Homo sapiens: one gene and its partner. The protein of the gene in region 1 purifies or fractionates together with the protein of each later gene. This does not show direct contact. Each region holds a gene or a part of one and is shown on either strand. Other genes may lie near its edges. The genes, in order: H2AZ2 and HERC4.

The links.
Region 2: the proteins of H2AZ2 (region 1) and HERC4 fractionate together in Homo sapiens (co-fractionation; one large-scale study listed by BioGRID). This does not show direct contact.

What each region holds. Positions count from the first base shown.
Region 1 is NC_000007.14:44,841,372-44,845,405, reverse strand, and holds part of H2AZ2 (histone H2A.V), read left to right. Parts: intron 1-2,051; coding exon 2,052-2,129; intron 2,130-4,034. UniProt on the Homo sapiens protein: Variant histone H2A which replaces conventional H2A in a subset of nucleosomes. Nucleosomes wrap and compact DNA into chromatin, limiting DNA accessibility to the cellular machineries which require DNA as a template.
Region 2 is NC_000010.11:67,988,284-67,991,783, reverse strand, and holds part of HERC4 (probable E3 ubiquitin-protein ligase HERC4), read left to right. Parts: intron 1-584; coding exon 585-644; intron 645-768; coding exon 769-880; intron 881-1,383; coding exon 1,384-1,573; intron 1,574-2,948; coding exon 2,949-3,121; intron 3,122-3,500. UniProt on the Homo sapiens protein: Probable E3 ubiquitin-protein ligase involved in either protein trafficking or in the distribution of cellular structures. Required for spermatozoon maturation and fertility, and for the removal of the cytoplasmic droplet of the spermatozoon.

The DNA of each region.
Region 1 (4,034 bases):
TGTATTTTTCTTATATAACAACATAGTCAAAAATTATTAAAATATGAGGCATTCTGGTAGAAATAGAGAGCGTCTCAGTTCTTACTGGTAAACTTAAATCAGTCTCTTGTTGAATTACCTAATATAAGAGAGTGAATATGAATTAGTTCTTAGATTTTTATTTTTCCTGTTTCTGATACCTGCCAGGGTTTTACTGTTTTTCTTCCATATTATCTTGGGTGACACGCACTTAATCCACTTAGACGTGCAATTAGAGGAAGTATACAGGGGTAATTTTTAGCTTTAAAAAATTTTTAAGGAAAGGGTTAGCTACAAAGGGGATATGCCATTTCAAAGCTTACCATCTATTTTGAAAGAATAGCCCCTCAAACAGCCAATCTTGTAAACTGATTTCTTTTTTTAACAGTAAAGAAATAATCTGTTTAAATGGTAAAAGCAAAATATATGAGAGAAAATTAGTTTTCTTAAGTCAGACCTTTAGTATTTCCTCCCGAGAGGCAAATAACATTTCTAATTTATTGTGTCACCTACTAGAAATACATGTGTACACATATACTCTATAATACCCCATATTTACTTAAAAGCTCATTACATTGGCACATACTTTGCCTTTTTCATGCAGAAATAGGTTTTTTTAAAGCGTACAGTTCAGTGGCATTAAGTACATTTATAGTGTGCAACCATCACTGCCTTCTGCCTCTAGAACTTTTTCATCTTCCCAAGTGGAAACTCTACCCATTCAACAATAACTCGGCCAGGCGCAGTGGCTCACGCCTGTAATCCCAGTACTTTGGGAGGATGAGACAGGCAGATCACTTGAGGTCAGGAGTTCAAGACCAGCCTGGCCAACATGCAGAAACCTTGTTGGTACTAAAAATACAAAAATTAGCAGGGCATGGTGGCGCGCACCTATACTACCAGCTACTTAGGAGGCTGAGGCAGGAGAATCACTTGAACCCAGGAGGCAGCTACCCCTGGCAACCACAAATCTGCTTTCTGACCATGAACTTTACTATTTTAGGGACCTCATAAGTAGAATCATACAGTATTTGTCTTTTTTGTAACTGGCTTATTTTCCTTAGCATAATGTCCTCAAGGCCCATTCATGTTGTAGCTTGTGTCAGAATTTCCTTTTTAAAGCTGAATACTATTCCATTATATGTATATCATTTTGTTCATCCATCATTGGACACTCAAGATTGTTTCTACCTTTTGGCTATTCTGAATAATGCTTCTGTGAACGTGGGTATACATGTATTTGTTTGAATCCTTGCTTTCAATTTTTAGGTGTATACCTAGAAGTGGAATTGCTAGACTATATGACAATTCTGTGTTTAATTTTTTGAGGTTTTTTTTTTTTTTCTTGGAACATGCTTTATTTTTCTGAGAGCTAAGTTCTAAATATTTCTGTGGAAGTAATATATGTTACATTGACATTGATAAAAATTGTGAAATATTTCATGTATGCATAAAAGTTATATTGACTTGCAAGATTCTTTAATCTGGAAATTGATAAATATGTTTGTTTTTAAAAATCTCATATTTTTCAGCCTGGCACTGTGGCTTATGCCTGTAATCCCAGCACTTTGGGAGGCCTAGGCGGGCGGATCACTTGAGGTCAGGAGTTCAAGACCAGCTTGGCCAACATAGTGAAACCCACCTCTACTAAAAATACAAAAATTAGCCATGTGTGGTGGTGTGCGCCTGTAATCTCAGCTACTCAGGAGGCTGAGGCAGGAGAATCGCTTGAGCCCAGGAGGTGGAGTTTGCAGTGAGTCAAGGTCGCACCACTGCACTCCAGCCTGGGCAACAGAGCTAGACTCCATCTCAAGAAAAAAGAAAAATATTTTAAATAAGTGTTTAAGGTTTGATTTCTTTGATAGAAATTATAAAAGGTGATAGAATCCCATGTATATTTACAAATGAGGAAGGGGATCACCTACATATTGTTAACTACCTAAAGTAAAACTAGAAAAAATTCTGTTTCCAGAATATTTTTGAAGTAGTATTTTCAACTCTTTTCATTCAAAAAAATTTTTTTTTGCATTTAGGCTGGAGGCAAAGCTGGAAAGGACAGTGGGAAGGCCAAGGCTAAGGCAGTATCTCGCTCACAGAGAGCTGGGCTACAGGTAATGAATCCATGCTGTCATTACATTATTATTTTCTTTACTGTTGTAATTTATGACCTATGTTTCATCAATTACAAAAATCTACTTGTATTACTACAGACTTTTTTTTTTTTTTTTTTTTTTTTTTTTTTTTTTTTTTGAGACAGAGTCTCACTCTGTCGTCAGGCTGGAGTGCAGTGGTGCAATCTCGGCTCACTGCAACCTCTGCCTCCTGGATTCAAGCGATTCTCCTGCCTCAGGCTCCCACATAGCTGGGACTGCAGGCGTGCGCCACCATACCCAGCTAGTTTTTGTATTTTTAGTAGAGACGGGATTTCACCATGTTGGCCAAGATGGTCTCAATCTCTTGACCTCGTGATCTGCCTGCCTCAGCCTCCCAGAGGGCTGGAATTACAGGCATGAGCCACCGCGCCTGGCTGAGAAACCCTTTTAATCAGGAAGGCTAAGCTGTAAACTGTTATCCTCTTGGCAGTGGTAAGCCATTGAGAGTTTGAGCCAGAGGACAACATTATCCAGATGATACCGAAAGAAGGGGGATGGGAACTTAAACTGATATGCACATTCTGTATTTTAGGTCTCCATGTATATTCCCAATTAGAATTTATTTTAAGGCATACTTAATTTGAAGTAGAAAATGGAAGGCCAATGGAGGTTTTTGCAGTGGTTTAGGAATAAAGTAACATACTTGAATGGGAAGGAGTAGAAAGCATGTGTGTGCAGAAAATAGGTGAAGCAGTATAAGGTTGAGAGAAAGTCACAGGTTTCTCTAAGGCTTAGAACCTAAGGAACAGAGGAGTTTGTAGTAGGGGCAAGTTATGAGTAAATTTAAATGGAATCATTTTGAAGTTCACTAAAACATCCATGTGAAAATGTCCAGAAGTTGGAAACATGAGTTCAGCTTTCTAATAGAGGTGATAGAATTAGGAATTTGAGATCATTTATGTAAAATGGATAGTTTATGTTATGGATGAGTTTCCTAACCTAAGAGAATGAGAAAGGAGCACAGGGACGTTGGTGGACCCCTGAAAAACTTTAAGAAAAGGCTGAGGAGTAGTCAGACTTGGTATGAGAACTCTGAAGTCTAAGATGAAATGTTTTTGAGGGCCTACTGTATGCCAGACAACATACTGGTTACTAAGGATACAAAGGAAAAGAAGACATAAATCTTGCCCTTAAGAAGCTTTTGGTCACTTAGAGATGAAGTATAAATGCAAAAAAAAGATTGCTTGTTTTTATTAAGGAAGTAAAATGTCACTGCTGGCCTTCAAAGGTCAAGTTAGGGTTAGGAAAAATGGGTGACAAGGAAGTAAGGGTTTCAGGATTTGTTTTTTCAATTCAGTCTTTGGAAAGAGACTGTCTAGACTGTAACTGGAAGCAGTTTTCATAGATTGTGAAGTTTTCAGTAAAGTCTGTAGAAGGAAAGGAACCAGCGGAAAGGAAGTAATTGTAGCTGTTGAAATAATGGAGCAGTGAAGGGTTGAGGGAGGCCTGTAAGAAAGGCACAGACTGGCGGGGCACAGTGGCTCATGCCTGTAATCCCAGCACTTTGGGAGGCTAAGGTGGACAGATCACTCAAAACCCTGTCTCTACTAAAAATACAAAACAGCCAGGCGTCCTGGCGCGCCTATAATCCCACCTACTCAGGAGGCTGAGGCAGGAGAATCGCCTGAACCCGGGAGGCGGAGGTTGCAGTGAGCCAAGATGGCGCCACTGCACTCCAGCCTGGGTGACAGAGTGAGACTCTGTCTCAATAAAAAAAATAATAAAGGGCACAGACAAGTGGGATCAGGATACTTTGAAATGAGAAAAATACCCTCTTTTTCAGAAAGTAGAAAGAACCACAATGAGATAATAGTATTGATTTTTCTTAACTATCAGATCACCTCTTGAAACTGAAGAAAGAAC
Region 2 (3,500 bases), on another chromosome or scaffold:
GAAATGTGTTCCTTCTGGTTTTATAATGGTCACTATCTTAACTTTTATACTTTGTGGAAGACTTGAGTATTATTTCTTTCTTGAATATTTTGTTAACTTGCCTAGTAGCACTTAAGATGTTATTTGTTTTTTGTTGGTATTTGGGATGATGGGTTGTATTTGAAAAGCTGTTTTGTTTCTCTAGCTTGTTTTCCAAAACTATAATTTTTCTGAAAATCCCAAAGGCATCCCAGATTAGGCTCACTGCCAATATAAAATGTTTAAAATTTTTTTAAATTAAAAAACTTTTTACATGAACATACACACTTAATTTTTAAAATACCATGTTTTAAAGCAGATAACATTGGATAAATGGATGAAAGTAATATTTAAGAAAGTCTAGAATAAACAGTAATACCTTCATCAAGTATTATTTTATCAGTCTTTAGCAATTTATGTAATTCTGATTCATCTAATTGGGTGTTAGAGGAGTGCTCTGTAGCATTAAACATTAGATTAATTATTCATTTTAATTCTTTTTTAAGAAAGGGTAAACAATTAAATTTCTGATTCTATGATTAAAAAAACTTTTTTAAATTTTTTAGTGAGATAGATGGAACGTTTTCTTCCTCTGGTTGCCTAAATGGAAGTTTTTTAGCTGTTAGGTAAGTGGCAATTCTTTAATATGCTGAAATTTTCAAATTTATTGTCTTAAATAGTATATCAAATTAAAAAATGAAATAATTTTAAATTTTTATTCTATTTTTTTTTTTCTTTTCTGTTTTTTAGCAATGATGATCACTATAGAACAGGTACCAGATTTTCAGGGGTTGATATGAATGCTGCTAGGCTTTTATTCCACAAACTTATACAACCTGATCATCCGCAGATATCTCAGCAGGTCTGTTTTTAAAGTATTATGTTTACAGTATTATCTGTTGATTTTGTTTTCTTTTGTTTTATACGTTTATAGCCTAATTTACTTTGCAGTTTCACAGACTCTTACGATGTGCTTTTAAAATAAGATTTTATTTTAAAGCATTTGTAATTTAGCTGTCAAAGATCTATAAATCTTTTCAGATGTTTGAAGCAGACCCTGAATTACTTAACATTACCACGTTGCTTAAGTTTGTGTATGGTTATAGAGGTAGAGAGTTTAAATTGAGACTTGTACACGTGATTTTTTAAATTCTCCAAGTAATGCTTAGGCATTAATTTTCATTGTGCTCCAAAGTATATTCATTGTAAGACATTGTCTTTCTTTTTTCTTCTTCACCATTTCATATTTGCTGTAGTGCAAAATTTTCCTTTTCTTTCTTTTCTTCCTGCCTTCCTTTTTTTTTTTTTTCTTTGAAAGTGTATTCATTTTAAATGAAGTAGGTTTTACTTTTTGTCAAAATATAGGTGGCAGCTAGTTTGGAAAAGAATCTTATTCCTAAACTGACTAGCTCCTTACCTGATGTTGAAGCATTGAGGTTTTATCTTACTCTACCAGAATGTCCCCTGATGAGTGATTCCAACAATTTCACAACAATAGCAATTCCCTTTGGTACAGCTCTTGTGAACCTAGAAAAGGCACCACTGAAAGTACTTGGTAAGAATTCTAATATTTTTTCTTTTGAAACCTTTTCTCTTTAAATGAAAATGCTTCATAAGTTCTTTTGCCATTTGCAGTTCTGCTGCCCTGCTTATTTGACACTGTCTTAGGCAAAAATGAACCTGTTTTTCCTTTTCTTGCTTTTGTCTAGTCTTTTGATTCTAGTTGTTGGAGTTGTTGAAAGAAAAACATGTTAGATATAGAAGTTCAATTAAACATAACAGCAGAGACAGTATTAGGAAAGTTAAAAACTGTCACCCGTATTCCTTTCCCTCATCGCCTTTAGTATAATCTTGCTATTAAAGAAGTAAAGGAGGAGGAACAATTAAAACTGAACAAACATGGGCTTTAAATCTTCTTGGAACCCTGATATAAGCCCTTTATCTTGTGTTTCCTTCACTTGCTAATTTCATGATATTTGATTTTATTTTTCTGCCTATAGACTAGATTTTATTGCTCATCTGATCTTGCACTTCTATCTCTTACTGTTCTGGTTTTTTGGCATAAAGTTTTCTCACTTTAATTTTTCTAATTGTCTAGATTTTATCTCTATTTCCTGGCCTTTATACTTTTTTTGCTACATTTAACCCAGTGCTTTTCTTTCTAATGGTATTTGTTAGATATGTGGAGCTGAGATATATAGAAGTAATAATGTCAGTACAAGAACTTTAAGGCTGAGGGTAAATGGAGGAAGCAACAAGCAAGGGGTAGAATATGGGAATCTGAGGGAAAAAGAGTCAAGCAGGGACTGAAAAGAGTATTGCTTTCCTGTTGTCAGAAGTTTTTGTATTCTTTCTGCCTGCTTCATAGGATTGAAGTGTTTGTACTTAGTAACTACAAATAGTGAATGTGGGGAAGGACCCATATGTTACACTTTACATTGTTCAGCTTCTGTATTTGATCTTCAGGAGTACCTTGCATTTTAAAGGTAGTGGTTCACAATATTTCAACCATATATTAAATTGAAAGATAAAAGTTAGAAAGATCCTTTAGTATTAGAGCAATACAATTTAAAGGATGTTTTGTTTAAAAATTGAAACTGTAATTTTCAAAACATTTTTTAAAAACTGGTTTTAATATTAGGTATAGTGGTGAGTTTTTTATATAACTTAGGAAACCAAGAATATAAATTCAACAAGACTTTCACACTTTATTTTTGCTTTTGAGAGCTTTTCGGACAATATTGTTTAACTTGGTCGGGGGGAGGTTTATAAACCTTACAAATGTTACATAAGATATTGTGTTATATGCATCTTTCTGGGGTTTTCTCAGGTTTAACAACTACTGTTTCAGAAAAAAAGTCAGTATGATTTTGAAAATTGTGATTTTTTAAAAAATTCATTTTATTTGCATGTTCACTTTTTAATAACAGAAAACTGGTGGTCAGTACTTGAACCTCCACTATTCCTCAAGATAGTAGAACTTTTTAAGGAAGTTGTGGTACATCTTTTGAAACTCTACAAGATCGGTATTCCCCCTTCTGAAAGAAGAATTTTCAACAGTTTTCTTCATACTGCATTAAAGGTTTTAGAAATACTACATAGGGTATGTCCAATCATTCCTTTATTTTCCTCTTTCCCCATTCCTATTAACAGATTGATACTGTTCATTTTAACATTAATCTATTAAAGATTTAGATTGGCAAAAACAATGCATATTATAGAAATTTGGAAAAGTTATCTATACTTTCTCTTAAAAGAAGTAATAAACCTGTCCTTTGGAGCTCTGGTCTTACCTGACTTTGTTAGGCATGTATAGATAACTTATCCATAGTTGGGCAGAACAATAACATACTAATGAGTTAGAATTCTCCTTATATTTCCTTATGAAGAATATAATTTGTTAGTTTGCATTATATGGTTTTTGTTAGCTGTAAGTGGTTATCTTGTGAAAGAGATTGGGTCCTAGTTGTAATTATGAACAT